Linked DNA regions of Homo sapiens. The protein of the gene in region 6 purifies or fractionates together with the protein of the main gene of each other region. This does not show direct contact. Each region holds a gene or a part of one and is shown on either strand. Other genes may lie near its edges. The genes, in order: RIPK4, BRIP1, MYO1B, TMOD2, MCM8, AVIL and ALMS1.

Region 1 (4,292 bases), on a different chromosome or scaffold from region 6:
TTGATATTATTCAACATTACATATACTAAATACCAATATTAAGATACTAGTTGGAATCAATTTCAACTTAAAAATGAAATAACTTGGTTTAAAATCTCAGGCTGCATTTATATGTCCAGTTAGCCCAAAACAGACGCTTTTCAAAGGGTCACACGCGGGTCACGTTCTGCTGTGTCTTTCTTTTAGAGGCAGCAAAACCCCGGCAGGCTGCTTTCTTAGTCTTGACAGCTGGACCTTGAAGTTGAAGGGCCATGTGCTTGGGGGCAGCTGTGAGCCCTCAGCTCTTGGAGATGCAGAGTCGGGTGCTGATGAGAGTGTTTGTAACTCTTGAAGCATTTGCTGGTCAGAGTGGATGCCACAGTAGCTCGCTGTTGAGGACACGGGGTGAGGGGCAGCTTGGGTGGGAAGATGAGGAAAGGCGGAGGGGAAATGCAGCCGGCCAGGAGTCCGAGACATGGAGGGAGGAGAACATAGAGGGTCAGTGACCCTCCTAGAATTCTCAATTCCGAGCTTGCATTTTGTTGCCAGAGGTTTTACAGAGAATTTCTGCTCGTTTTCTTTTCACCAAGTATAGTTTGGAGTGGCTGGCTCTATCTGACAAAGACAGGAGGAGAAAAGGCTGCAGGCCTGGGGAAGCACCAGGCTGAGATCTCTGCACCCCTGTCGTTTTTCTTTTCTTTTCTTTTCTTTCTTAATGATCTCAGATGTCATTTAATTTTCACAACAAAGCTACAGGATGGGTACTGCTATTGCCTCCTTTTATGAAAAAAGGAAACAGGCACAGAGAGGCTAATAGTCCAGGGCCACGGAGCTACTAACTTGTACAGGCAAGATTAGAACAGTGAGTCTGATCCTTAACTAACCGTGGGAGGGAGATATTTTTTTCCTACATTCAACCATACAGGGGGAGGAGGAATTGCCTAGAAAGTATGTGATGCTTTCTTTATTTTTATTATTATTTTTTATTTTACTTTTAGTTCCGGGATACATGTGCAGAATGTGCCAGTTTGTTACATAGGTTTATATGTGCCATGGTGGTTTGCTGCACCCATCCACCATCTAGGTTATCACCTAGGTTTTAAGACCCGCATGCATTAGGTGTTTGTCCTAATGCTCTCCCTTCCCTCTTCCCCTACGCACCGACAGGGCCCGGCGTGTGATGTTCCCCTCCCTCTGTCCATGTGTTCTCATTGTTCAGCCCATTTCTGAATTTGAAGGCTTTCAAGCCACTGATGACTGTTGAACTGAAACTTCCTGTGCTCTGGAGCTATTTGGAGAGTTAGGACCCGTTGTTGTGTCCCAGCGTCCAGCAGCCGCCGGGGTTTGCAGGGTCGGGTGATGGCGTTCCTCTGGGGAGCTGGCGCTTTCCCTGGAGTGCAGAGTGTGGCTCTCAAGGGCGGTGCAGGCCTGAAGGCCCTGGGAGAAATGGAAGTGGGAGGACATGAGAGCCGCTGGAGTCGAGGCCTTGTCCTGGTGCTCCTGGCTGCAGAGAAGGAGGGCCGGTCCCTGCTCGCAGGCCTTCCCCCCTACCTCCCTGCAGATGTGCTCAGGATCCCTGGAAGCCCGAGTCACAGGTCATAAATTCTCCCAGCTGTTTGGTGCTGATGACAGCAGCCCTATTGGCTCACCACATGGGCATGGCCAGCCCAGAATTAAGGCCTGACTCAGCCTCATTTCCTGTCACTCCATGGGTGTGTTTGAGAGGAGCTCAAGAGTTAATGAAAAGGGTTTTTAAAAAAATCCATATGCCTTGAAGGAAAGTTGAGAGCAGCACTCCCCCTGGATCAAGAGTCCCATTAATGCTGATGACTTGTGTCTTCATCCCACATACGGTTTTCAGCAGCTTCAAAGGGGACTGAGTTACACTGGAGAGGGTAGGACACTGGCAGGAAAGGGGATGCCCCCGAGAGAGGTCAGACCGGGGGTCTGTGAAGTCTCCCCAGTGAGCTCCAAGGTCACCTTTGCCCGAAGGAGACCTGAGACCTGCCTCCCCTGAATGCGGACGTTGAGGGCATTCCTGGAGGAGCTGGGTGGCCGGTGCTCCTTGGGGCCCGGGCGCTGCCAGCAGAGGTGTTTATCAGACCTTCACTCGAACACATGTGTTTGAAGCAGCCAGCCAGTGTCTGCTGATCACAAAACACTCCAGATGGACGGGGCTCTGAGGCGTGTGTTTTGTTTGCTTTAAAGTTTAAAGGGCTTCTGAAGGTGTGTTTCTGTGTTTCCCTTTAAAGGACTTGCAGCCACTTGCCCGCCAGCCTCCCCAGCTGGCAGGTTGCATAACCTGCTCCCCGACTTCTCTAGGAGCAGACCTGGTCTTCACATGTGTCTCTCTTTACCTGAACCCTCGAAGGCTTGTTTTTTTCCCTTTATGCCGGCTCAGCCGGCTCTCAACCACCATGGCAAACATGATGCTTTACAGAAGGTGGATTCTAATTCTTCTGCAGTTCTGTCCCGGATAACTCCTTCCTTACAGTACGATTCTTTCACCTGCCCGTCAAATGTGCTGCTCCTAATGCCTCCAGGCTTGCTTCTGCCCCAGAATCTGTCTCCCTCCCTGCCTGGGGCAGGGCTACCTGGAGAGGCACAGACACGGCTCTTAGGGGCTCCTGGAAAGCTCTCACCCACCCTCTGAGATTGCAGAAGGGAGCTTTTGATAAAGCATCATAAAATATCACTGTTGCAGGCTAATGAGCCCCGCTCTGATGGCTGTGTTGCAGATTTCTGATTTTGGTCTGGCCAAGTGCAACGGGCTGTCCCACTCGCATGACCTCAGCATGGATGGCCTGTTTGGCACAATCGCCTACCTCCCTCCAGAGCGCATCAGGGAGAAGAGCCGGCTCTTCGACACCAAGCACGATGTATACAGGTGTGTGACATGCCGCCCCCCATCCCCTGTGGGTGCCAGGGGCTCTCAACCTCAATGCTTCATGCCCTGAGCTGCAGCTTTCAGAAAGGCCTCTTGCTGCCAGTCAGAAATGGGGCTCGGGCCAGGCGCGGTGACTCACGCCTGTAATCCCAGCACTGCGGGAGGCCGAGGCAGGAGGATTACTTGAGCCCAGGAGTTTGAGACCAGCCTGGGCAACATGGTGAAACCTCATCTCTACAAAAAATACAAAAATTAGCCCAGCTTGGTGGCGTGCACCTGTAGTCCCAGCTACTCGGGACTGAGGTTGGGGGATTGCTTGAGCCCGGGAGGTGGAGATTGCAGTAAGTCATGATTGCACCACTGCATTCCAGCCTGGGCAACAGAGCGCGACCCTGTCTAAAAAACAAACAAACAGAAAGGGGGCTAAGTCCACATAGAAGGGGTGGGTGCTTGTAGAGTTCAGGGATTTCTTTGCTGTGAGTGTTGCTAGCCAAGGAGGAAGGGTGTTCCCAGGTCCACATTTGGGCCAGGCTGACAGCCCTGCCCTGTCAGAGCCTTGGTGATTTCATGACCCGTGGGCTTTATGGCTTGTCTGTTGGAAGAACCTGCTGCTTTCAGTGGTCTGTACGCATGTGTGTTTGTACTTTCCGAAATTCACTCTGATTTTGTGAGGCGAGCAGCTCATCTTCTTCATGGCACTTAACCTTTGTTGGTCAGAGATCAATCCCCAAGTCACCTAGTCCCTTCCTTTTTCAAATTGTAAAGGTCTTAATCACACAGACTTCTTGGAGAAGAAAAGTGGGTGGGAGCGTGTGAGCAGGCACTAAGCCTCCCATTGTGGCTGTTATCCAGCAGCACTGTGACTCGGACCCCGCATGTGAGCTCTGCCTTTTGGTCACTGCCGCCGCCAGCAGCCCAGGCTGACTGGTTTGACAGTGGCCATTGTGCATGTGCTTAGCTGGGGCTTTAAGCTGAGAGTTGCCTGGAAGTGTCACTTTGGAGACTAGTCACAGCTTGTAGAGTTTGGGGAGATTGAGATCCTCTCCATTTATTTTAGAGTTTGGAGTTCCAGCTTTTGAACCTGCCGTTTGAACTAATTTTCGATGGTGAATTCGTTGTCTATAAACAGCCCTCACCAACTCAGTGCTCCTTGGAGGCTCAGTTTTCGGACTTCTGTTTTTCTTTTCTTTTTTTTTTTTTTTTTTTTAATCAATTTGGGCACTTTTTTTGGTGTATCCAGAGTAATGTACATGAACGTATCCCTCATATTATCTATATATTTCTAAGCAGCCCCCGAAAAAGGCTTTGGGGCGTTCAGCTGTGTTGTCTCCTACGTTTTCTGCGCACTTTCTTTAACAACCCTCTAATGATGAACTCTCAGTGAGCCTCTGTTAGGAACGCTGAAATCTCAGCAAGCCTACGTTAG
Region 2 (4,292 bases), on a different chromosome or scaffold from region 6:
ACCTCAACCTCCTGGGCTCAAGCAATCCTCCCACCTCAGCCTCGCAGGTAGCTGGGACTATAGGTGTGTGCCACCACACCCAGCTAATTTTTGTATTTTGTAGAGGCAGAGTTTCACCATGTTCTCCAGGCTGGTCTCGAACTCCTGGGCTCAAGTGATCCTCCCAGCTCAGCCTCCCAACCTGCTGGGATTACAAGCATGAGCCACCACGTCCAGCCTTGCTCTTTCAGACTTTTAAGTAAAACAGAGGTAGGACAATCAGGCAGTATCTTAATCAAAAAATAAGTAAAATAATATGTGATGTTTAGAAAACTATAGTTATTACCTTGTTGCCTCTACCCTAGGAAGCTTACTGTGGTAATTTTAAAATTAGCATGCCAATGTTTAAAATGTAAATGATTATTTAAAGGCAAAAGAAACAATAAATATTCCCTTACCTTGTAAGATGGCAAGAAACACAAAATTCCTTGGCTCACAGTCTGGCACACAGATAACAAAAGTGCTCCCACTTCATCTTGGAACTCAAATGTTTCAGTATTCTGGAAGGTAGCACAGAGATTCCGACCCTTGGGGCCTGACCCAATGGTACCAACCCAAACCTAGAATATGAATATGTCATTATTAGAGTTATGCCTGAAAAAGGCATGGAAATTAGTATTTATTTGGAAGTATGTACATAAAAGATCAAGCAACAAGTTTAACAATTTATTTTTAAATTGTCAGGGGGTTTTCTATTACCTTCAATTAACTGTATACAGATTTAATTTATAAATGTTTTGCTTTAGGCAGATCACTAAATTCTCTTAGAGTGAAAATTCTTTGAAAGCAAAACAGGTTGTACCTGTCTCTGTTTACTTAATAGCTTTGCAAAATTTAAGCATGTAACAAATTTTTGTTAGGTGAATAAATGAACAAGTGAAATGATGAATATATACCAATAGCAGAATCAGATAATTCCAAAATACTGGGGATGAAGGCCAGTATAATTTGCCATAGGCAAGTCTCAAAAATGACAGGAACTACTCTTTCAAAAATTCATTGGTGCTCAAAGATCCTTAGTCATAGAAAAAAATCACACCCACCACATCTTACAGTTATTTGCAATTCTATCTCCCTTATATGTAGAGAGAGGGAGAGAGACGAAAATTTTGCAAAATGTTAACAAGTGATGAATCTAGGTGAAGGATATAAAGATATTCACAATATTAATATTATCTTTCCAACTTTTCTGAAATTTCTAATTTTTTGAAATACAGTTGAAAGAATCAATGAATGAATGATCAAAATGTAGCATTGAGTAGAAAAAAACAAACTTTTTCCTTTGCTCTCACACCACAGCAATCAACACAGAAAACTTCTGTGACCAAATGTGTGGGAGGTTTTTTCCACATACCAAGCAATCAATTCTGCAACAGACATCAACTGGGTGTCCTCTAATTCAATTCAATTCTGATACTATCTACTGGGAGATGATAACTTCAGATCCCAGAGGTTGAGGGCTCAGTCCCCAAGACTGCCCCTGATTTCTGTGGCCAGTCACAGTTGTTTTTACTTGCACTTCTGACTGATCAGCTAGAAATCGGGCATCCCACAACCCTCTGCTTGGGTTCAATTAATTTGGTAGAGCTGCTCACAGAACCCAGGGACACATTTACCTACACTTACTGATTTATTAGAAAAAATATTACAAAGGATACAGATAAAGAGATGTATGTGGGAAGGGGCTCAGAGCTTCAATTCCCAGGCACATCACCCTCCAAGTGTTCAGGAACCTCCAAGTGTTCAGCTATCTGGAAGCTCTCTGAACCCTGTCCTTCTAGGTTTTTATGGAGGCTTCATTATGTAGGCATGATTGATTAAACCACTGGCCATTAAGATAAACTTAACCTTTAGCATCATCTCCCCCAAGCCCTCCCCAGAGGTTGAGGAATGGGGGTGAAAATCCCAACTCTCCTATCATGTCTTGGTCTTCCCGGAGGCCAGCCCTGATCCTGATGCTACCTAGGAGCCCCCTACCATTAGTCATCTCATTAGCATACAAAATGTCACTTTGGAGATTCTAAGGATTTTAGGAGTTGTATGCCAGGAAATGGAGTGGAAGACCAAATATATATATTATAAATCACAGGCATATACACACAAGAAACATTATTCACCTTTAAAGAGGAAACTCTGGCACATGCTACAACATAGATGATGAACTTTGAAGACATTATCTGCAACATGGACAAACCTTGAGGACATTACTAAGTAAAATAAGCCAGTCACAAAAACGACAAATATTTTATGATTCCACTTATATGAAGTATTTATAGTAATCAGATTCATAGAAACAGAAAGCAGAATGGTAGTTACCAGGAGCTGAGGAGAGGGGGAGAATAGAGAGCTGTTGTTTAATGGGAACAGAGTTTCAGTTTTTCAAGAGGAGAAAGTCTTGAGATTGGTTGCACAACAACATATACATACTTAATAAGACTGAGCTGTATACTCAAAAATGGTTAAGATGGTAAATTTTATATATATTCTACCACAATTAAAAGTTTTTTAAATTTTAAGTTGAAGGAAAATATTACAGTGTAACAGAATCCAGCTGCACAACTACATTATTATAATTCAGCGACATTATAGGTTAAATGGACTTTTGTGCAGTAGGCTGAGAACATAGAGCCTGTAATAACATTCTTATGAGAAAACGTATGCTGAATTTACCAACTTCCCATATTTATCTGTGTCTCTAAAGAAAGCAACTTGAAAACGTGGAACATGTATTCTTCCTTCACTGCTGTTCATAGTCACATTTCTCAGCAGGAACACTCTGGCATTTGGAAAGCACAATTCTTAGTTACATAGGAGTAGCATTCTAGGTTCCCAACTACCAAATGCCGTAGTTGCTCCCAAGTAATTGTGAGGACCAAAAATGTTCCCACCTATAAACCTGTGTATATAGCTTAATAAAGAGCTAGCATTGTGTTAGGCACACAGGTGATGTTAACTTAACCACTTTAGCATTAACCACAGCTTAACATCACCTGTGTGCCTAACCACTTTAAAATATTTCATAAAAAGAAACCAGAAGGCATAATGAAAAATAACAATCTATACATTTCCACAAAAATTAAAATAACATTTAGTAGCCATCGTTATAAAACATTAAAATCTTAAATCATAGGACTCATAAGAGTACTTTTAACTCATTTCAGATATTCAAACATGCTGAACACTTGCTAAATACCAGCTATTAATCTAGGCACAGAGGAAGAACGTGGATGTAAAAGGAAGAATCAGGATACACTGTAGTCTAATGGAAAAGAGAAGCATAAATAATTATACAAGCTGGGCATGGTAGTACATGCCTGTAGTCCCAGCTACTCAGGAGGCTGAGGCAGGTGGACTGCCTGAGCCTGGGAGTTTGAAGCCAGCCTGGGCAACATAGCAAGCGACCTTGTCTCTAAAAAGATAAAGTCTGGCCAAAATGGCAAAACCCCGTCTCTACTAAAAATACAAAAATGTGCCAGGCATGGTGGCATACACCCATAATCCCAGCTACTCAGAAGGTTGAGGCAGGAGAACCGCTGGAACCCAGGAGGCGAAGGCTGCAGTGAGCCAAGATCGCACCACTGCACTCCAGTCTGGGTGACAGAGCAAAACCTTGTCTCAAAAAATAAAAGTAAAAATAAAAATACAGAGATAAAATAAATAAAATATAAATAGGCTGGGCACAGTGGCTCACGCCTGTAATCCCAACACTTTGGGAGGCTGAGGCAAGTGCATCATTTGAGGGCAGGAGTTCAAGACCAGAATGGACAACATGCTGAAACCCCATCTCTACCAAAAAAATAAAAAATTAGCCAGGCGTGCGGCGCACACCTGTAATCTCAGCAACTTGAGAGGCTGAAGCAGGAGAATTGCTTAAACACGAGTGAGCCAAGATCACACCACTGCACTCCAGCCTGGGCAACAGAGCCAGACTCTGTCTCAAAAATCAATCAATCAATAAATAAAACATAATTATACAATGAGAATTAAAGAAATCAAAATTTTGTTTTCATTACAAAACTAAAACTTACTTAGAAGAAGAAGCTGAAATACAGCCTTTTGCATCCCAAGTGACTGGATTATTTCCTTCTGTTGACACATCATTAAGTAGCTGACAGATTTTCTTTTATTGTAAAACTGGAATGTTGAATTTCCTACCAAGATTTACTTGCTGGCACTTCAGGTATCTTCTAACTTGTTTACATAGTTATATTGAAGTAGAAACACTGAAGGCCTTCCAAAAAAAAAAACAACAA
Region 3 (4,292 bases), on a different chromosome or scaffold from region 6:
TCTGTCAACTAAAAGTCTTCATCCTTCAAATATTGCATCATTTGTGTATACTTCATTCATTCACTTACTCATGACCCACTCCTCGAGTGCCTGCAATGGGCAAGCGTCTGTCCTAGGAGCCGTGTGCTGGGCCACAGTTAAATCTGAGAGATCATGTGTGGCATTTCTCATGGATTGAGATGTCTGAGTGTCATTGTTTTGAGAGAGCTAGTGGCATGGTTTATAAAGCTGTTTTTCATTTTCTCCATACAGGACAACAGCTTTGAGCAGTTCATTATTAATTATTGTAACGAAAAGCTGCAACAAATCTTCATTGAACTTACTCTTAAAGAAGAGCAGGAGGAGTATATACGGGAGGTAATGTTGAAATGCTATTTTTAAAAGTGTTGGTCCTTTTTTACTCGTAATATAAATTCTAATTCAGAAGATAGCCTAAACAAGAAGCCATATTCAAAAGGCTACATACTGTATGATTCCATCTGTCATTCTAGAAGAGGCAAAGCTATAGAGACTGATTACCTATAAGAAGCTATAGAGTCAGGGATTGCCAGGAGATAGGAGTTGTGAGAGGGTTGTGGCTGCAAAGAGAATTTTGGGGACTGATAATGGTGGTGGTTGCTTGACATTATACATTTGCCAAAACTTAGAGAACTGTATACCAAAAAAGTCAGCATCACTGTAAGTAGATTTGAAAATATTTTGAGACTTTGTTCAATATCAAAAAGTATTGAGTATTCAAATTTATAGTAAAAATAGGTAACAGTTACTGAGTCCTTACTACATAGCAGGTATTATATTAAGTGCTATGTATAGATTATCTCATTTAATATAATCTTAAAATAACCAGAAGTAGTGTTTGCAGAGTCTTTTCATCATTAATTTAAAAATATATATTTGCTTTTCACCCTTTTATTTTTTAAAATAGCCAGTCTTTTTTCAAGTGTAAAATTAGTTATTTCAAAAAATAAAAAGGAATTGTTATGTTTATATTTTTATTTCCTTTTTTGTTTATTTGCCTTAATATTTTAGTAATGATATTACCTGTTTTCCTTTATTTTCTTAGTATCATTTTAAGCCATTAAGGACACTGAATTCTCTTTTATCTTTCTTTCCATATAGATTTTTCTAATGTGATTGTTATCCCCAGTGGCTTAGTAAAACAACCCATTTACTCAAAAGCTAAATCATAAATATTTCATCTTTATTTTAGAGTACTCATTATGCTTCAGAAATGTTTTATACTTGTCTGGCACCTTTTAGTAACATAAATATTCTAAAAGCACGATTCATTCTTTTCCTGTCTTCTCATCATGAAGAGAATGCCCAAACTTTGATGGGTAACTTAAAACAGTTTATACAGATTGTTTAAAACACTTCTAAGAATATATAGGAAGATTGCTAGCTTGCTGTAATGAATAGAAGACAAATAAATGTTTACATTTATGGACAGAATGTTAAGTAGACACAGAAAGATTACATTTGGCTTTATGGATTTGGCTTTGTAGCCAGTGTTAGAACCAGTGGATAGATTTTCATGTCTTTCCTTATGTTGAAAATACTTTGTGGTAGCGCTGGCCTGTTTTTTTTAACACTTGAAAGAGTTAACTTCCCTACAACACAAGATTGACTCTAAAATTAATTTTTTTCCTTATGATTACAGATTCAGAACAGAAGAATCTAGGCTTTAAATTCTTGGGATCAAGTTCTAACTTATTTCCTTATAAACATTGTAAACATACACAACGTAATATTGACCCAAGGGCCTGTTGAGTAAATATTTGGCCCAGGGCCAGTGAAGTGCATGGGAAATTGCTGCAGATGGGAGAGTGGAATGGAAGGCAGTCTCAGAACAGGTCAAGGGTGTTTGCTTCAATCAGATTATGTCAGTGGTAGGCAGCTGCATTGAGAAAGTTTTGGGAACTGCCTGTGACATTTGCAGTACCCATTCTATAAAGAAAATAAATTCAGAGAGGAAGGGAAATATGATAAGATGGTCAAAGTCTGTTTTATGGATGGTAGTGTCGTGGCTTCATCTTGTGTCATTGGATTTTGTTCTGTTTTGTCTTTTAGGATATAGAATGGACTCACATTGACTACTTCAATAATGCTATCATTTGTGACCTAATAGAAAATGTGAGTACTTAGGTACAGTTTTCTAAAGAATGTTTTAGTCCTATAATTCACCCTTATAAATGTTCTCAGTGCCTCAATGTTAAGCATTAGTATTTTCACTGTTTTTTATATATATATATATATATATATATACACACACACATATATATGTGTATATATATATATATACACGTACACACACACACACACACACACACACACACACATATATATATATGTTAAGGAACTGCAGAGTTCTAGAGATTTTATTGTAGCCCTAAGAGATCATACACAGTTCTTGAACACATACATAGACAGCTGGATGTTTTGATACTTAGCCAGGATCCCCAGTGGCCATATCACAACACCCTTTTATGACCTTCAGACACCAGGCCTTAAAGGTACCAGCCTTTCTTGTATGGTTGGAGCCCAGGTCTATTCCATGACTCCTGGGCATGTGAGTACTGATCAGAGTAGGCTCTGAGCAGCCATCCAGTTTTTTGCCAAATCAAAATATCCATTTCATTCCCAAAACTCTAATGACCTCTTAACATACTATTCACCGGGTATTATATTAAGTTTAAGTGACATAAAGGGACAACCTCTGGAGCTGAATTAAGTGGGACCCCAGAAGTGGCTTAAGTGCAGCTGTAGCATTGATTCAGATCATACATGCAGAGGGCATTGCATGTGTGACTGCAGGTGGCCAGGGACCTGGAATTTTTCGGATGACCCAAGTATGTGCATATGCAAAAAGGCTTAAAGTGTGAAAAATTATTGGATAATTTCGAGTAAGCTTTCTGAGTCCAAGATTTTTGTTTTTAGATCATATTCCGTAGTTTATTGTAAATGAATTAAATGTAGGAAGACTGATTTTGTGTGTGGAAAACAGGAAACTAATTTATGCTTAGGATTACTAATACCTGACTTTGAATAAGTAATTTGAAACAGTGTATAAGCCTTATTATCCTGCAGTCTTTTTAGCAAGACCAGTTTAGTGAGATGAGTGCTGTGTTTCAGGAATACAGTCACATGCTCTGAATGAATATTAAATCATTTTCTACTCATCTTTTACAAAGCTTTTTGGGAAATATGTAATTAGCCAGTATTTTTTTTCCTCAGTATTCAAGATATTCCTAAAAGTTGTTTCTCTGATTAAATTAAACAATATTCTAAGGCATCACTATTTTTCAATAAGAAATAAACTGTGTTTCAAAAAATCTGAACAATATTGAATGGGAACACTAATATTCCACATAAGCAATTCAGATCTCTGATTTTGGCTCTGAAAAGTGAATTTCCTGAAAATTTTCCTGGTACATTTTGTGAAGGAGGTAATTTGCTATGGGAATCTTAATTTTCAGAATTTCTGATTAGTATGTTTTCTTTGATAAATATAACCTTGCATTTAATTATTCTCTTTTAAGAAGAGGAGAAAAAGAACAGTGGTAATACACTTAATTTAACTAGATTATCTCAGCCAAAAATCCCCTTGCTATATGATTGAAGAAGCTCATGTTCACATAGGAACCTGGGTATATAAAGGAAATGTTTCCTTCCAGCATCATTAAACAATAATGTTTGTTCTGGGGATGTTATGAACACACTTGATTCCTGAGAGTCCACGCTTCCCCAGGGTTTTGTGTGGAATGAATAAATGCTGGTCAGAGGATGTCGTGGCCTTGTTAGCAGAAGGGGAGAGGAACAGAGGACTTTGCCTGGGTGGAAGTAGGTGGGGTTGATGGTCAGTGGAGTGGATTGTTTTTGGAATTAAGACTTATGACCCCATAGGGGCAGTCCATGGAGTAGCAGTCTTTATTTAGCAAAGTAGAAGCTTCCTGACTTCTGATTCAGTTTAGGGCTGACTACTCTTGGAATAAAAATGACCACAGGGTCTAGATATGCAACAAATAAATTTTCACTTATGTTTAACATCCATTTAGAAATTCCACATGAATTTCTAAAATCTAAATCTATATGAAACAGATATTCTTGAAATCAGTTTGATTGCAGTGATTGTTAAAAGCAGCATCTCAAATCACAGCATTTTTTTCTAGGAAATAAACTTTATTTTGAACACATGAACAATTTGGAAACATAGAAAACGAGTTTCCTTCTTAGGAGTGAATCAAATAATGGCCTTAGAAGACTGCTTTGTGATTTGAGACATGTTATAGAGG
Region 4 (4,292 bases), on a different chromosome or scaffold from region 6:
GGGTTCGAGATGTTTTCACTAAACTAATTTGAGAACCATCACACCATAAGCAGTTAGCCTACATATTTGATCGTGTTTCTTTTTTCTTTCAATGTACTCTCCCCAACTCATCCTCCCCTGACTAATGGCATCCTATACCATAGCGATACTTATACTACAACTGATGAACCATCATGGACACATCATTATCACCCAATGTCCACAGTTTCCATTAGGGTTCACTCTTGGTGTTACACATCTTATGGGTTTGGCCCAATGTAGAATGACATATGTCTAGCTAGCAGCCATGATTCTTTTTAACACCGACTCCAGTTCATGGGCTTATTTCCCATTTCCGGGACAGTTCCCTTGCTTGACCCTCCACGACAATAAAATAAATACTGAATCCAGTTCATGGGCTTATTTCCCATTTCCGGGACAGTTCCCTTGCTTGACCCTCCACGACAATAAAATAAATACTGAATCTAGTTCATGGGCTTATTTCCCATTTCCCAGACAGTTCCCTTGCTTGACCCTCCACGACAATAAAATAAATACTGAATCCAGTTCATGGGCTTATTTCCCATTTCCCGGACAGTTCCCTTGCTTGACCCTCCACGACAATAAAATAAATACTGAATCCAATTCATGGGCTTATTTCCCATGTCTGGGACAGTTCCCTTGCTTGATCCTCCACGACAATAAAATAAAAAGAGGTAATCTTAATTAAGAGTGCCTCCGTTCCAAAAAAAAAAAAGAGAGAACCTCTGTTCCAAGATGCTCTGCCTGTGGTCCTTACCTTTCTTTTCTCCAGTGAAGGGCACAAAGTCCTCTCTGTCTTTCTGTTCCAAAGCCTCCTTCTCCAGGTACATGAGGAGGTGCTCGCGGTCAAAGGGGCCGGTGGCTGCCTTCTGTGTCTGGTCTTTCTGTCGAAATCCAGCTGGCAGCATGGCACTCTGACAAGAAAGAGGTGTGAGCAGGAAGGAAGATGTCTGCCGGCCTGTACTTTGCTACTTCCTCTTCCACCCCCACTCACTATGTGCTGGGGAAGCAGGAAGGATACCTACGCAGAATGTGCGTGTGAGCTGAGGGCTGGGGGCTCTGGGACGCCTCTGAGGCCCTATTTGTTATAATGTTCAGTGCTGAGAGGGGGCTCCCAATGAGCTCAAGCAGCGCATAGATGGCTAGAGCAGCCTCTGAGTTTCTGAAGCTGCCTCCTAAAACATGGAGGCAAAAGACCTCTTTCCTTGTAGATCATGCTTAGGTTTGGCTAGGGCTGCACCCAAGGTGCTCCCAGGCAGAAACATGAGACTCTAACAAGGAGCTGACATGGGGAACCCCTCTCCTGCAGAAGCAGTAAAGCTGATAAGTAAACACTATGATGATGTTAATGCCTGCTTGATAAAGCTTTCAGATTCCTTCCTTAATTTAAAAAAACAACAACAGAATATCTGTATTTTTAAAAGTAAATACCATATCCAAAGTATCTGACATATCAGAATACCATATACATAATTTTGTTTTAGTTATATTTTTATTTATGGTAAAATCACTATTTTGGATGGCTCCGATTTTTTTTTTTTAACCGTAATTGACTTTTTATTTAAAAAATTACACGGAGCAATTTCCAGCATATCTTTTTTTATAAAAGTACTGCTAATTCTAAGTTTAAGATCATACCAGCAGGTCTGAAGAAAGTGCTTGCTAATCAAACAATATAACAAGCGACTTAGCTTTTCAAGAACTTATAAAAACATTAGAAACTCCATTGAAATGAACTTGGTATCATGATTATAGTCAGTCTAATCTATTCTTTGTTATAAGTTCATCAAAGAGTTCACATTATTTGTGCATTTGAAAGAAATGAGATATTTTTAAAAATCTGCGTTTGGGGCCGGGTGTGGTGGCTTAGGCCTATAATCCCAGTACTTTGGGAGGCTGAGGTGGGCAGATCACCTGAGGTCAGGAATTCGAGACCAACATGGCCAACCTGGCGAAACCCCGTCTCTACTAAAAATATAAAAATCAGCCAGGCATGGTGGCATGTGTCTATAATTTCAGCTACCTGGGAGGCTGAGGTAGGAGAATCGCTTGAATCTGGGAGGCAGAGGTTGCAGTGAGCCGAGATCTTGCCACGGCACTCCAGCCTGGGTGACAGAGTGAGACTGTCTCAAAAAAAAAAAAAATTCTGCATTTGGGCCTAAAAACCTGGTTTAAATACCATCTCTGACACTTACCAGTGTGGAATCTTATATAAATTACCTCTCCATGTCTAGGGGTTAATAAAGTTTACCTCAAGGGCTTCTGTGCCCAGAGAAATATATGACTCAGAAAAAACTCAGTAAGATTTGCTCTCTTTTCCTCTTTCCTTCTTTTTCCCCTAAACAAGACTAGTCCTTTCTCAACCAACGGAAAATATTTCCCCCCATTTACATTGGGCTGGTTTTTGAGAAATACATTTGCTGTATCACACTGTAGTGGCTATGAGGTTCTCTATGAATTTGTAAACACAGGTGACCCAGAACCAATCAGAGGAAGAAAAGAAAATGTGCATTCCGAGCTAAGGGATTTCTACCATTGTTTAAGGACCAAGCCATGCCATTTATCCATACTATCATTAACCACTCTGCTTCAGTTCCATGTCACTAACCTCAGGATCTAGGTCATCTAGAACATTTTCCAACTGTTTCAGTTCCTCTTCTGAGAGTTTGCCAAGAAGCTCATCTTCATCAATGTTCTTGTATTTCTCCAGCTCTTTTTGAAAGGGGAGTGCCATGGCTTCTTATAAGCCTTTCTCATGGGCCATGCACATTTAAATGGTCCAGTTTCCTGAGACTTCAGAATACTGTTAATAAAAAAGAAACACAATAAAAAAGAATCTCCGTTCTGTAAACAGGACTTATTAACAGGAGACAGAAGTATGCCTCCAATGGAGCCTACTGTATTGAATGAATAATTCAACAAAAAGGTAATATTCCCTTCATTTGCAGAGCAACCTGACAGCTTACAAAGTGTTTTCACATATTTCACTTATTTTGATCTTTACAACAATCCTGTGAGGAAGCCCGTGACGATATTATCATTCCCATTTTATAGATGACAATTCTGAGGTGAAAGTGGCCTAGTGCCTTGCTCGAGGTCACAGAGCTGGGATGCGTGAGCCCCGCCTTCTGATTCCCAGCATAGTGGGTGCTTTTCCCTTATACTACTCTGCCTTCCCTGGCTCTCCATAGAAAAACAGGGGAGAACAATGCACTAATTGTAAGGCAGTTGTAAGAAGCATACTTGTGTCTTTTCAGGGAGAGAGTGATGTGAAGAATACAAAATGGGATTCATTCAGGAACGAGAGTTTGGAACGTCTATGTGAGAAAGCATTGTCCAGTAACTCCCCTGCAATTAAACTAAGTGCGATTCTAAAATCCTGGCCACATGATCACTCTCTCTATTTTTCTCCTTGCTTTGTTTTCCATTCTATTTCTAGTCCCATTTCCTTTTTGTTCTACGTATTCATTCTTTATACCCTCAGACCGTTCTTCTCTCGACCCTTATTTTTTATACCACCTCACTTCTAAATATTCACCCAAAATGCAATTTTTACTCAATCCCTTTCTCCTTGCAGAGGATTCTACAGATCTTCCTTAGAAAGATAATACTCATTCAGGAAACAGTAATGTACTTCACTGACTGTGTTTCTCCTTAGGAGGTATTACCACCAATCACATCTTTCAGGCCAATAAATATTTGTTATATACCTACTATTTGCCAGGCATAGTTCTAGCAAACAGAAATACAAAGATAAACAAGATATGCCACCTTTCCCCAAGAAGATCACAGCTTAGTGAGACAGGCACACAAATAGCAATAATGTCATAAGTATTAGACGTAACGTATAAAGTAGGTTTAAAAACACATGAGGAGGCCAGGAACGTTGGCTCACGCCTGTAATCCCAGCACTTTGGAAGGCCAAGGCAGGTGGATCACCTGAGGTCAGGAGTTTGAGACCAGCCTGACCAATATGGTGAAACCCCATCTCTACTAAAAATACAAAAATTAGCTGGGTGTGGTGGCATGTGCCTGTAGTCCCAGCTAGTCGGGAGGCTGAGGCAGGAGAATTGCTTGAACCCGGGAGGCAGAGGTTGCAGTGCTGAGATGGCATCACTGCACTCCAGCCTGGGTGACAGAGTGAGACTCTCTCAAAAAAAAAATTATATTTATCAAAATGCCCCCTCTCCCCAAGATCACAGCTTAGTGAGACTCTCACACAAACAGCAATAATGCCGTAAGTATTAGACATAATGTAAAAAGTAGGTTTG
Region 5 (4,292 bases), on a different chromosome or scaffold from region 6:
CATCCTGCTGCAGCCTCCGGAGTAGCAGGGACTACAGGTGTGCGCCACCATGCCCAGCTAATTGTTTTCTTTTTTGTAGAGATAGGGTCTCACTTTGTTGCACAGGCTGGTCTTGAACTCCAGGCCTCAAGTAATCCTTCCGACTTGGCCTCCCAAAGTGTTAGGATTACAGGCGTAAGCCACTGCACCCAGATTCCTGTTCATGATGAGCTTTGTTTCACCTGTAAGGGGTACCCTGAGCCTCTGTTGTCAGGCTACATTGTAGCGAGGTCTCAGAACAGAATTTATTTTTTAAAAAGTAGCCCCAGATGGCCAAAAGGAACCAAACATAGATGAAATATCTATGGAATTATAATAATATCTAGGAATTAAAATGACTGGTTTAACACTCAACCACAGGCAATAAAGGATGACTCAGATATGAAGGACAGTGGGTTTATAATGTAATGACAAGATCAAAGCAGTTCTCAAGGCTGGCTGCATATTAGAATCATCTGTGGACTGTTGTACACATATAGACACTAGGACCCTAACTTAGAAACTCTTAACTCAATTGGCTTGCAGTGGGCTATGGTATTTTCAAAGAGCTCCAAAAGTAATTAAGATGTGCAGCCAGGATCCCAATCCTTGGAAAAAGATTTAGGAGCCATACTACTACAACTTACTAAAGGGCCAGAGAAGCCCTGGTCAATTTTCCACATCGAGTGAAGAAGGGGGCCACAGGCATTTTTAGAAAGCACAGTGGCCAAGCACAGTGGTTCACACCTTTAATCCCAGCACTTTGGAAGGCTAAGGCAGGTGGATCTGCTTGAGCCCAGGAGTTCGAGACCAGCCTGGGCAACATGGCAAAACCCCATCTCTACAAAAAAAGCATTAGCCAGGCATGGTGGCACATGTCTATAGTCCCAGCTACTTGAGAGGCTGAGTTGGAAGAATTGCCTGAGCCCAAGGTGGAAGCTGCAGTAAGCCAAAGTTGCGCCACTGTACTTCAGTCTGGGCAAAAGAGGAAGACCTTGTCTCAAAAAAATAAAGTAGAAAGCACATTACGGCTGGCTTACCGGTTGTCACTTTAAGGAAACTACAAGCATACCAATAAGCAGCACCTTCTAAAGCCATCATAAAACCCAGGAAAGGAAAACCACTAGGCTCTGACTGGCAGAGGCAGAATTTTCTTGGGGATCTACAAATGACTGATCACAGCAGTTGCCTTGCTTTGGACAGAGCGTGGTGGCTCACACCGGTAATCCCAGCACTTTGGGAGGTTAAGGTGGGTGGATCACTTGAGGCCAAGAGTTCAAGACCAGCCTGGCCAACACAGCAAAACCCTGTCTCTACTAAAAATACAAAAATTAGCTGGGCGTGGTGGTGCGCACCTATAATCCCAGCTACTCAGGAGGCTGAGGCACAGGGATTGCTTAAAAGTGGGAGGCAGAGGTTGCAGTGAGCCCAGATCATGCCACTGCACTCCAGCCTGGGCAACAGAGTGTGACTCCGTCTCAAAAAAAAAGGTTGCCTTGATTTGGACTCACAAGCAGTGGAGATATATACAGACAGATCCCACACCTTTAGCAGACTGTTCTTAAAGCCCAATACAGTGTTTATGTACTTGTATGAGGGAGAATAGGTGACCCTGCTTTAACTCCCCTGAACTATTCTGTTCATAGGTGAGGTCACATAACAACTAACAACAACAAAGACTAGCAAAACAATGGTTAGAGAAATGGTTAATATTTCCTAATAGTTGATGTCTCAACAGACCAAGATGTTTGTACAGCCTCTGTAACAGGAGACTGGCTCAATTTAAAAATATGGTCAGATATAAGTTACATATTACTCACACAAATTCCAATTCATTTACGCCACCTAACCATGTCCTCTGGAACACACACACTACATGCTTTGAGAAAATTCACTTGTGAATTATTAACGCATTTTACAAGCAAAAGAACAAACACTAAATGACTGATTGTCTACCTGTAGCATTTGACTTTTTCCTAGGCCTGGATCTCCAACAACAAGGATGTGGGGGTCTCCCCGAATTGGAATTCTGTTTTTGTCATCTGCGTATTTCTGGCTTCCTCCAAAGAGTGCTAATGCCAAACCTGCTTTAACAAGCTCAAGTGCGAAAAAAGAACAAAAAACAGAAGTAAGGAAAACATAAAGGTGACTAGTAAAGGGGGTATTCCTCCTTCTATAATATTAATTTGTTTGGGGATTGTTTTAAAAGCATGATAATTTTTTTCTAAGAAAAGGAAGTCTAAAAACAAACTTCTATCACGTAAATGATTAAAAAGTAAAAACTTGAAAACATATAAAATCAGAGCTATCTTAGAAATTACTAAGAGCTACCTTGCAAGGCATAAATCCATTCCACAAAAACGAGAAATATTTGTTTTTGCTTTAATACTGGCAGTGTCTAGTCACTTTAAAAGCCCATTTCTTACCAAAAGTAGCTGGGTCTGGTGGCGCATGCCTGTAGTCCCAGCTACTCGGCAGGCTGAGGTGGGAGAACTGTTTGAACTTGGGAGGTGGAGGTTGCAGTGAGCTGAGATCGCACCACTGTACTCTAGCCTGGGCGACAGAGCAAGACTCCATCTCAAAAAAATAAATAAATAAAATAAAAGCCCATTCATATTTACTCTAGTTGGTAAAAGTTTTTTCTTAAAAGGAGCTATACGGCTGACACCTATAATCCCAGCACTTTGGAGGCTAAATTGGGTGGATCACTTGAGGCCAGGACTTACAGACCAGCGTGGGCAACATGGCAAAACCCCATCTCTACAAAAAATACAAAAAAATTAGCTGCACATGGTGGTGCATGCCTGTAGTTCCAGCTACTCAGGAGGCTGAGGTCAGGAGGATGACCTGAGCCCCAAAGCTGGAGGTTGCAGTGAGCCATGACTGTGCCATCACACTCTAGCCTGGGTGACAGAGCAAAACCCTGTCTCAAAAAATTAAAAAAATTAAAAAAAAAAAAGCTATAGTTTGCTTGCCTCCCATATCATTAATTTACAAAGCATATTAAGATATAAATAACTGGCCAATAGAAATTTGCTACTTTCTGTAAAGTTTTTATATGTTATTTTTGCTAACCTTATATACTTTTTGAGTAAAGATGAAGTAAAATACTTACTTCATGACCAAAAATGACAGGGCAAAGCGAGCTGAAAAACAGAACACAACTTATAAATTCTAATTTATACTTCATTGATCCATTAGGAGATCTCCTCTACAATTTGTTTAACCTGCTTAATATCAACAAAGACAAATGTAAAAAATTTACATCCCCTCAACTGAAATTTTATTCTTACAGTACATTTCTCAAAGTTCTTGGTTAATCTATAAAGGTTAGAATTTTTTAAAAACTCTGCATAAGGAACAGAGGATACTTGCAAAGCATCTTAAAGTAACTAAATACAATGTTGCTCTTCTTACACAACTAGCCTTAAAATGCGTCACAATCATGGTCTTCCATTTTAGGATACGGGATTATATTGTATTTTATGTGAACAGACATCTTGAGACTGTGCAGCCAAGTCACTGAAAGGAGACTGAGAAGTGAACTCAGTATATAATACTCTAAGATGGGATAAAATTTCATTTTTTTCAGTTCAAGTCAAAAGGTCAAATTAAATAAGAAAATGAGGCCAGGTGCAGTGATTTGTAGAACCAGAAAGTCCAGAAAGGTGGGATAACTCAAAGCATGGGCTTCCAGCCTACAGGTAAATCTAAACATTTTCTGGTTGACAATTGGTTGAGTTTGTCTAAAGACCTGGGATCAATAGAAAGGAATGTTTGGGATGCAAGAGGTTGTAGAGACCAAAGTTTTATCATGCAGATGAAGCTTTGGCTAACAGGTTTCAGAGAGAACAGGCTGTAAAATGTTTCTTATTAGACTTAAAATCTGTGTTGATGTTAATGCCAGAGAGGTATAATAAGGCATGTCTGACCCCCACTTCCCTTTGTGGCCTGAATCAGTCTTTCAGGTTAAATCTTAAGAGCCCTGGCTGAGAAGGAAGTCTGTTTAAATGGGTGGGGGGCCTTGGAATTTTATTTTTGGTTTACAGGTTCATGCCTGTAATCCCAGCAAGCACTCTGGGAGGCCAAGGTGGAAGAACTGCTTCAGCCCAAAAGTTCAAAACTAGCCTGTGCAACAAAGTGAGACCCCGATATCTATAAAAAAAAAAATTAAAAATTAGCCAGCCATGGTGGCATACACCTTTAGTCCTAGCTACTTGTGAGGCTGAGGTGGGAGAATAACTTAAGGCCAGGAGTTTGAAGCTACAGTGAGC
Region 6 (4,292 bases):
TGAATCATTGGGCTTACCTCAACTTTTCCGTTGCCATCATCGACCATTCTTTCCTGGGCAGCTACCTCTGGCTTGGTGTGTAGCAGAGTCACATCAAATTTATCCTGGAAAACTTTAGCTGTGGAGAAAGGGTTGGGAAAAGCCGAGTGAGTAAGAAGCATCTGTGCCTGCTTTTCTAGAGTCTTAGCAATGAGAGGATGATCTGGGGGCAGTCTCACCAATTTTACCAATGCTGAACGTTTTCCCCAGGCCCATGGTCTGGTCCTTTACTGACCACTTCTGGAACAGCTGCTTGAACATGGCCGACTCAGCACCATCGTTGACGGTCTCCACATTGGTGCTGCTGGGGTAGCTCTTCATCTTGATGAAGCCCTGCAGAGCCACCCATTCCCAAAGGCAGGTCAGTGGTGGAATACACTGAGTTCTTTGCTTGTCTGGTAATTCACCTCTATGAAGCCACATGATATAAGCGTCTCCCCTCTGGGAGTCAGAGTCAAATTCTAACTCACTTTTGTCTAAGGACCAAGGTACCTGCCTAAAAAAAAAATGACTGAGTGGAACATTTTTGGATCTGTTTATTGGCTTGCGGTGATTATGGTTGTTAATTTTTAGGATGATTATGCTGTGTTCTTTCAGTACTTTTGTCCTTACTGACTTTGCATCACATTTGTTTGCTCATTTATTGCTTCTGGCTTGGTTCATCTGCATGGATCTGCACAAATATAAGCTCCTTGAGGACAGGGCCATTAACCTTGATATGTGATATCCCCTTCAATAATAACAGCCACCTTTTATTCAGCAGGTACTGTGTGCCAAGAACTGTTCTGAGTGCTTTTTTTTTTTTTAGACAGAGTCTCGCTCTCACCTAGGCTGGAGTGCCGTGGCGTGATCTCGGCTCACTGCAGCCTCCCGGGTTCAAGTGATTTTCCTATCTCAGTGCCCTGCCAGGTAGCCTGGACTACCGGCATGCGCCACCATGCCTGGATAATTTTTTTTGTATCTTTAGTAGAGACAGGGTTTCACTATGTTGGCAGGCTGGTCTTGAACTCCTTACCTCAGGTGATCCACCTGCCTCGGCCTCCCAAAGTGCTGGGATTACAGGCGTGAGCCACTGCGCCCGGCCCTGAGTGCTTTACAAATGATATTTAATCCTCACAATAACCCTAGGAGATGGGTATGACCCCCATGTTAGATATGGGGAAACTGAGGCCCACAGGTGTTAAGTATGTCTTCCCCAGAGCACACAGCTGGAAAAGACAAAACCTGGATTTGAATCCCAGTTTGTCTGCCTGACTTTGCAGTCCATGTACGTAAGCACAATGTTATATGCTCAAATACCTAGCATGGCTCTGTGGAGTGACACACCTGAAGTGCTCTTAGCAGAATTATTTGAACAGTATTGCACATCTGTAGCTCCTACCAGCGCTTTAGACATGGCTGCCTGTTTTTCAGCCTTTGTGGCTCCTTTTCCTTTCCACACGTAGATTTTGGTTCCACTTTGGTCCAGGATGTAGCAGTCCTAAAGCAGCCAGAGATAGGTATGGTTGCTCAAGACCAGAAGGAAGATTTTGCACAGGGTCTGCTTCTGAAGCATGTCTGGCTACCCCAAGCTAAGTCCACCCAAACTCTACTTACATCATGGTTCAGTAAGTCCTGGACCAGAGGCCTTGTTGCTACCTCTGTGACTGCCAGCTGCCCAGCTGAATCTGAGATACTGGAGAAGGGGAGAGGTTAGCCTGTGCCTTTTCCTCTATAAAGCATCTTGTAGTCAACTAGATGTTGTTCTGGTTTGGTTTTAGTTTGGAGTTTCTAGGTAGAGTGTGACTGCCTAAGACAGCCATGACTTGAGTGAGGACAGGAATGTGCAGACTCTTTTCTTTGGTGGAGACTTTTGTTCATCTCTCTCCCAAACATTATCCCTTCCACATCCCTGGGCATGTGTAGGCTAGAGTAAAGGAAAGGTCTCCTCAAGAGATCAGGAGAGTTGCTAACAAGAACTGCCTCCTTGAGTGGGGGATCTCCAAGCTTTCTAGGAGCTGCATTTGAAAAGGACTAAGAAGAAAACCAGATGGCTACACCCAAAACAAGGAGCCAAGCAGAGGTGGCTGGTGTTCTAGGGGACACCTTCCCCCCAACCCCAGCTTCCAGCTAAAACCAGGTTGAGCTACTCACTGATACAACATGATAGTTGATTTCTGCTTCTGATCTATGATCTCATCAGGGACTGTAGGCTTGATAATGGAGCGTCGGCCAAGGGTGTCCTGAAGGACCTTCATCAGCTCTGGGCTGGCTGCCTCCTTGTCTCCCTCGATCACTCCTATTTTAGCACGGCCCCCTCGCTCCCTGTCTCGAATATCCTTTGCCAGAAGCATAGCCTGTCAAAGAAGCCCAAGGAAGCCCTCAGCTCCTCTGGGACCCCTTTCTGCCTGATGTCTTTGGGGAGAACAGCCTAGATCCCAGACACAGGAGTTACTTGGATGCTGAGGAGTCCAGGGTGAGTCACAAACTCACACACTTGGCCTGTCTCCAAGACAGATTCTACTCAAAGGCAGGGCTCCACCTTGATTCTTGGGGAAGAGCCAGCATGGAGGGAAGAAGAAAGAGGAACTTGAGAAAGTGCTAAGGCTAGGAAGCCATACCTTCAGGCGCTCCCCACTGTTGCTCTCTGGGCCATTCCATTGGATGATGACTTTCCCAAGGTCCAGCAAGAAGACATCACCTCGGTTGAAACTGTCCCAGCTCATTTCCACCTGTCGATGAGAGGTAAACATTGTTCAGGAGGAATTCTTAGGTGCCAGGTGGAGAAGCCCCGGGCCTGGGGCAGAGAGTGTGCAGGACTAACCTCGGTAGCCCTGATGTTTCTTTTCCCTTTCACATGTAGCAGCCGCTTCACGTCGTAGGTATTGGTCTCCACGTGCTTCATCCCAGAGGCGACACCCCCCTGCTTGTAGCTAAGGGAACATCCATTCAGTTATTTGAGTGCCTGCTATGTGCTAGGTTCTGGGGAGACAGTGGTGAATTACACAGATGCAGCCTCACTCATGTGATGACAGTACATCAGCAAGGTAAATACAGATGGTGGCAGCTGCTGCCCCACAAGTAGACTGGGTGAGTGACTTTCTGGTAGCGAGTTGGGGCAGTCTTCTCTGAAGAAATGACATTTGAACTGAGATACTACAAGGAAAATGAACCAATACCCAGAAGAATAGTGCTCCAGGCACTATAACAGTGTCCAGGAGACATCAGTGACAAAGACCCCTGCACCACAGAGGGCTTGTTTTGTTCCAGGAACTGTCTGAATGCCAGTGTGTTACTGGGAGAGGGATACAAGTTGTGCTGCAGCAGAAGCATTAATGACTCCACGGCCTTAAGACCACCTACCCTAGGAATCAGCTCACCCGCCCTGCACTCAGCCCAGCCCAGCCTCCGAGCCAGGGGTCCTGCACTTTAAGGGAATGCGGAAGGTAGCCCTGGAGCAGAGGGGCTCTGTCCTTGGGTTCCCCAGTGGCTCAGTGTGCTCCTCTGTGCCCAGAAGGGCCTCAGTCAGTGGAGACTGCTGACCTGCAAGAAGCTGATCTTGGCCCAGCCTCACAATTCTCAAGCTCATTGGAATTCCTCTTTTTGTTTTAATATCAGGGGCAAAGTTTTGAGTTAAACTTCTCAGTTGATGGAACATTATCATCAGCCTTCGCTCCCTCTCTAGTGTTATGTGTCTGTGCATTCCCTTTATCTGCCTGTCCTACTCCCATTCCTCTCCCCAATACGCTTCCATTCTAACTGTTGACCTTTTTATTTTCATTCTAGTAAACTGTGTCCCCCACCTTTTTTTTTAAAGACAGGGTCTCACTCTGTCACTCAGGCTAGAGTTCAATAGTGCAATCATGGCTCATTGCAGCCTTGACCTCCCGGGCTCAAGTGATCCTCATCAGGGACTGCAGGCTCGATAATTGAGGGCTCAATACCCTCAGCCCATGGAGTAGCTAGGACTATAGGAGTGCACCGCCATGCCTGGCTAGCTTTTTTACAAAATATTTTTTGTGGAGATGAGGGTCTTACTGTGTTGCCTAGGCTGATCTTGAACTCTTGGGCTCAAGCTATCCTCTTGCCTCAGCCTCCCAAAGTGCTGGGATTACAGGTGTGAGCCACCACGCCCAACCCATCCTGTTGTTTTGTGTGCATGTTTTTGTTTTGTTTTGTTTTGTTTGAGATGGTGTCTTGCTGTGTTGCGGGGCTGGAGGGCAGTGGCATGATCTCAGCTCAGTGCAACCTTCGCCTCCTGGGTTCAAATGATT
Region 7 (4,292 bases), on a different chromosome or scaffold from region 6:
AGCAGGGCGGTACACACATGTGGTCCCAGCTACCTGAGAGGCTGAGGTGGGAGGATTCCTTGAGTCTAAGAGTTCAGGGCTGCAGTGACCTGTGATTGCACTGCTGCACTTCAGCCTGGGCAACAGAGCAAGACTGTCTCAAAAACAAAACCAAAAAAGGCTTTAGCCAAATATTATCAGCAACTCAACTGATGCCCAAGTAAGAGATCCTAATTCCATCACCCATTCTTTCATATTTACTTTCTTCATTTCCAGATTTCTTTTATACCTTGGACAAGTCAGTTGTTCTTCCATGACCAAATAACTCTGCCTTGATCTCTTCTACTTTCCTCCTGTCATCTTCATTTAATTCTGAAATGGAGTATCCACAATCATGTGCTAAATTGAACTTCATATTCCAGGCTGGAGAGAAAGCATACACTTGAGATAATACAATGCAAAAGTGATAATTTGTCAACAATTGCAACACAGAAGATCATCAATATATGCAATTTAATACCCACTGCAATGCTTAGTATGTCTTCTTCTCAATTATGACAACCTATTAGAAATTCTTGACAGAGATCCTTTCACTGCAAAGTCTGATTTTCTTAAGTCATGCTCTATAGATAATTCTACAAAAAAGCCACTTTAAATCGGGTAATCAATCATATTTATCTTAATCCTCCTTTTAATCATGAGTTTCTTTACCTCTCCCTTTAGTTCCTGCTACAATTACTCATAATTCCATGACAGCTGATATTTAAAAGTAATAAATACAACTTGGAGGTTTTTTTGTAGAATAAAAATGTGCAGGGAACAGCGTAGGAAGTTAACCTCAAGGGACGATTTCTAGGTAGGCCTAAATTGCTTTTAAATTGCCTCCCAAAATATATTCCCCATATTGTCTTACAGATTTTTGTTTTTAATGGAATTCTATTAGAAATTAATGAGATTTGTAAATATTCTCTTTTAAACCTCTAACCCAAGTTTTAGTATAAAATACATTGATTTTTTTTTCAAATGTCTGAGATCAACACCAAGAGTTCTATTAGAAAAGGGAAAGAGAAAATATATGTAGTTTTAGGACAAAAAGCAATTTAGAGCACAGCAAATTGGAGGCTCTTTCTGCCTTCAGAATAAGGATACTATAATGGGAGGATTAGAGAAACGTGATAGCTTTAGGAGCTCAGGAGCCCAAGCGACCTCTTTACTCTCTGTCATACATCAGAATCTACTTCTCCTAAGAACAAGAACGTAAACTCAGGCTGGTACTATTAATACTGTAACTTAACTACATTATTGGTTAAATAGGCTTTTTATGGATTGTTAGAAGAAATATAGTCATTCTAACAATTCTATTGGAAAATACATTTAGAACTCCAAATATCTAACTTCATTTTTTTTCTTGATCTTGCTTGTATTTTTCATTGGCTAAGCTTCCTCAAAACATAAATATCTAACTTTAAACACATTATTAAACTATAACGTTTATAAGCCTGAAACTTTCTTCTTACCATGTGCTCGTACCCGGCTTTCCTCTTCCTCTGCATTTCTGAGTATTTCTTTAGCATGATTCAGTGAGGATTCACATTGCAGAAGGTTTTTCACATGTGCAGCCAGTGAATCTACACTGCTACCACCACCATCCTCACTCTCTGACACACCCTCTTCCTCCCTGCTATCTGTTATACTTGTCTTGGGTGAAACATATGGAAAGAAGTTTAGAAGAACATCAGAAACTGATTCCAAAGACTCTGGTAAATTACTGTCCCACGAGCAGGAACCATTTCCATCACTGGCATCACTACTTGAATCACTTTTTATGACAGTCATCATAGGGATAATAATTTTATTCCCAATGGTTCCACTACACCCTTCAGGTTCAGACCTCATTACAGATTTGGCTGCTTGATATTGCCTAAGAGTTTCTTCTAATGCCATACTGACTTTGCTCTCTGCTTCCTGTAGAGGACTTCTAACTGTAGTTGAACTAATAAACTCCCAATTTTCAATGCCTCTCCGGCATTTCAAATTCGTCTGTGTGCCAATATCCTTCTGTATGCACCTGCTGCTTGGGCTTTCCTCTGTGAATGGCTGTCTGTGAAGCAAATCACCATTAGATACACCCGTGGAAGAGGGTTCTTTGAAGCAAACCACCTTCTTAGATTGTATAAATGAAATATCACTAATATCTCTGAAACGGGCAAGGGGAGCAGGAAAATTGCATCGTTTCAGTGCCATATTTTCTGCCTCCATCAAAAGTGTCCGAATTTCCTTAAGAGTTTTAGCACTATTTTCTGCATCCTGGATTTCTTCAGAGCCAACATCTCTAAAACCTGCAGATTCTGGTTTATTTATTACAACTCTGTCATCAGCCTGAGAATTTAAAAGCACATTATTTGAGCTAACACTGGAGTCAGAAGAATTCAAATTATCTATTAGCCTTTGGACATGTTCTGAAACAAGCTTGTGATTCTCACCATGTGAGTAAGTACCAGAGGGAACTGTTTGTAATCCGGTAATTTGATCAGCTTGCCCAAGAGCACTTGAGATCTTTAGAGCATCTTCAGTTAGATGTCTATCTGGCAAATCCTTTTGATAGAAAATATCTGGTTTCTCTCGATGTGAAAAGGAACTAGGAAGAGCTGTTGGTAATACTGTTTTCTGGCCAGCTGGTCCAGGAATTGTTGAAACCTTCAGCACATCTTCAGTTACATGACTACCTGGCAATTCCTGTGGACTGAAAATATTCGATTTCTCTCTGTGAAAATAAGAACTAGAGAGAGATACTGGTTTTCCAGTATTCACATCAGTTAGTTCAGGGACAGCTGAAATCTTTAGAATACCTTTACTTTGATCTCTATCTGGCAACTGCTGTTGAAATAAAATATTGGGCTTTACTGTTTGAGAATAGGAACTATGAAAAGCTGTCTGGGATGGAGTCTTCTGGTCATTTGGTCCAATCACAGTTGAAATCTTGGGCTTCTCTATTTGTGAGTAGGAACTAAGGGTAGCTGCTGGAAACTCAGTTTTCTGGTCATCTGGTATATGCACAGTTGAAATCTTGAGTTTCTCTTTATGTGAATGTGAGTAGGAACTAGACAGTCCTATTGGTATCCCAGTCTTCTGCTCTGCTGGTATAGAAACAGGTGAAACTTTCAGAGCCTCTTCTGTGAGATGACTGTCTGGCAACTCCTGTTGAGAGATAACACTGGGCTTCTCTCTACGTGAGTAGTAACTTAAAGGTACTGTTGGTATCTCAGTCTTCCGGTCACCTTGTCCAGGAACAACAAAAACATTTAAAGCTTCTTCAGTAACATCTGGCAACTCCTGCTGATGAAAAATACTGGCCTTCTCTCTATTTGAGTAGGAACTAGAGGATGCTATTTGTATCCCAGTCTTCTGGTCAGCAGGCCCAGGAACCCCTATTGCTTTCAAAGTTACTTCAGTAAGATCTGGCAACTCCTGCTCATAAGAAATGACAGAGTGCTCTCTCTGTGGGTAGGAATTAGAGGGCAGGATGTTTATTCCAGTCTTCTGGTCAGCTGGTCCAGGAACTCTTAAAATTTTCAAACCTGCTTCAGTAAAATGCGGCAACTCTCGCTGGTAGGAAACAATGGGCTTCTCTCTGTGTGAGTAGGAAGTAGAGGTTACTGTTGATACCCCAGTCTTCTGGTCAGCTGGTCCAGGAACATTTGAAACTTTCAGAGCCTCTTCAGTTAGATGACTATCTGGCAACTCTTGCTGGTAAGAAATATTAGGCTTCTCTGTATGTGAATAGAAAGAGGAAGTTACAGTAGATAACCCAGTCTTCTGGTCAGCTGGTTGAGGAACAGCTGAAACTTTCAGAGCTTCTTGAGTTAGCTCACTGTCTGGCAGGGCCTGTTGGTAGAAGACAATGGGCTTCTCTCTATATGAGTATAAACTAGAGGATACTGATGGTGTCTCAGTCTTCTGGGCATCTGGTCCAGGAACAGGTGGAACTTTCAGAGCTTCTTCAGGTAAATGACTGTCTGATAGGGTCTGCTGGTAGAAAATGACAGGCTTCCCCCTATTTGAGTAGCTAGTAGAATGTACTGGTAATGTCTCAGTCTTCTGGTCAGCTGGTCCAGGAGCAGCTGAAACTTTCACAACCTCTTTATTTAGAGGACTGTCTAGCAGAGCCTGCCGGTAGAAAGTAATGGGCTTCTCTCCAAGTGCACTGGAACCTAAAGGTCCTGCTGGTATGTCAGTCTTTTTTTCAGTAGGTCCAGAAACAATGGAAACTTTCAGAGCCTCTTCAGGTAGATGACCATCTGGAAAGGCCTGTT

What was found.
Region 1: the proteins of AVIL (region 6) and RIPK4 purify together in Homo sapiens (affinity purification with mass spectrometry, with the first as the bait; 2 studies listed by BioGRID). This does not show direct contact.
Region 2: the proteins of AVIL (region 6) and BRIP1 purify together in Homo sapiens (affinity purification with mass spectrometry; 2 studies listed by BioGRID and IntAct, with this or other methods). This does not show direct contact.
Region 3: the proteins of AVIL (region 6) and MYO1B purify together in Homo sapiens (affinity purification with mass spectrometry; 2 studies listed by BioGRID and IntAct, with this or other methods). This does not show direct contact.
Region 4: the proteins of AVIL (region 6) and TMOD2 purify together in Homo sapiens (affinity purification with mass spectrometry; 2 studies listed by BioGRID and IntAct, with this or other methods). This does not show direct contact.
Region 5: the proteins of AVIL (region 6) and MCM8 purify together in Homo sapiens (affinity purification with mass spectrometry; one large-scale study listed by BioGRID and IntAct). This does not show direct contact.
Region 7: the proteins of AVIL (region 6) and ALMS1 purify together in Homo sapiens (affinity purification with mass spectrometry; 2 studies listed by BioGRID and IntAct, with this or other methods). This does not show direct contact.

Annotation. Positions count from the first base shown.
Region 1 is NC_000021.9:41,749,671-41,753,962, reverse strand, and holds part of RIPK4 (receptor-interacting serine/threonine-protein kinase 4), read left to right. Parts: intron 1-2,717; coding exon 2,718-2,866; intron 2,867-4,292.
Region 2 is NC_000017.11:61,775,964-61,780,255, forward strand, and holds part of BRIP1 (Fanconi anemia group J protein), read right to left. Parts: intron 2,816-4,292; coding exon of another isoform or gene 2,777-2,815; exon of another isoform or gene 2,283-2,776; intron 2,217-2,282; coding exon of another isoform or gene 2,157-2,216; intron 600-2,156; coding exon 438-599; intron 1-437. UniProt on the Homo sapiens protein: DNA-dependent ATPase and 5'-3' DNA helicase required for the maintenance of chromosomal stability. Acts late in the Fanconi anemia pathway, after FANCD2 ubiquitination.
Region 3 is NC_000002.12:191,381,210-191,385,501, forward strand, and holds part of MYO1B (unconventional myosin-Ib), read left to right. Parts: intron 1-252; coding exon 253-357; intron 358-2,070; coding exon 2,071-2,133; intron 2,134-4,292. UniProt on the Homo sapiens protein: Motor protein that may participate in process critical to neuronal development and function such as cell migration, neurite outgrowth and vesicular transport.
Region 4 is NC_000015.10:51,764,905-51,769,196, reverse strand, and holds part of TMOD2 (tropomodulin-2), read right to left. Parts: intron 2,825-4,292; 5' UTR 2,756-2,824; coding exon 2,630-2,755; intron 936-2,629; coding exon 779-935; intron 1-778. UniProt on the Homo sapiens protein: Blocks the elongation and depolymerization of the actin filaments at the pointed end. The Tmod/TM complex contributes to the formation of the short actin protofilament, which in turn defines the geometry of the membrane skeleton.
Region 5 is NC_000020.11:5,970,879-5,975,170, reverse strand, and holds part of MCM8 (DNA helicase MCM8), read right to left. Parts: intron 3,165-4,292; coding exon 3,134-3,164; intron 2,596-3,133; coding exon of another isoform or gene 2,445-2,595; intron 2,116-2,444; coding exon 1,975-2,115; intron 1-1,974. UniProt on the Homo sapiens protein: Component of the MCM8-MCM9 complex, a complex involved in the repair of double-stranded DNA breaks (DBSs) and DNA interstrand cross-links (ICLs) by homologous recombination (HR).
Region 6 is NC_000012.12:57,808,177-57,812,468, forward strand, and holds part of AVIL (advillin), read right to left. Parts: intron 2,952-4,292; coding exon 2,843-2,951; intron 2,751-2,842; coding exon 2,640-2,750; intron 2,376-2,639; coding exon 2,173-2,375; intron 1,715-2,172; coding exon 1,636-1,714; intron 1,550-1,635; exon of another isoform or gene 1,520-1,549; coding exon 1,421-1,519; exon of another isoform or gene 1,408-1,420; coding exon of another isoform or gene 1,366-1,407; intron 373-1,365; coding exon 219-372; intron 119-218; coding exon 18-118; intron 1-17.
Region 7 is NC_000002.12:73,451,272-73,455,563, reverse strand, and holds part of ALMS1 (centrosome-associated protein ALMS1), read right to left. Parts: coding exon 1,497-4,292; intron 403-1,496; coding exon 269-402; intron 1-268. UniProt on the Homo sapiens protein: Involved in PCM1-dependent intracellular transport. Required, directly or indirectly, for the localization of NCAPD2 to the proximal ends of centrioles.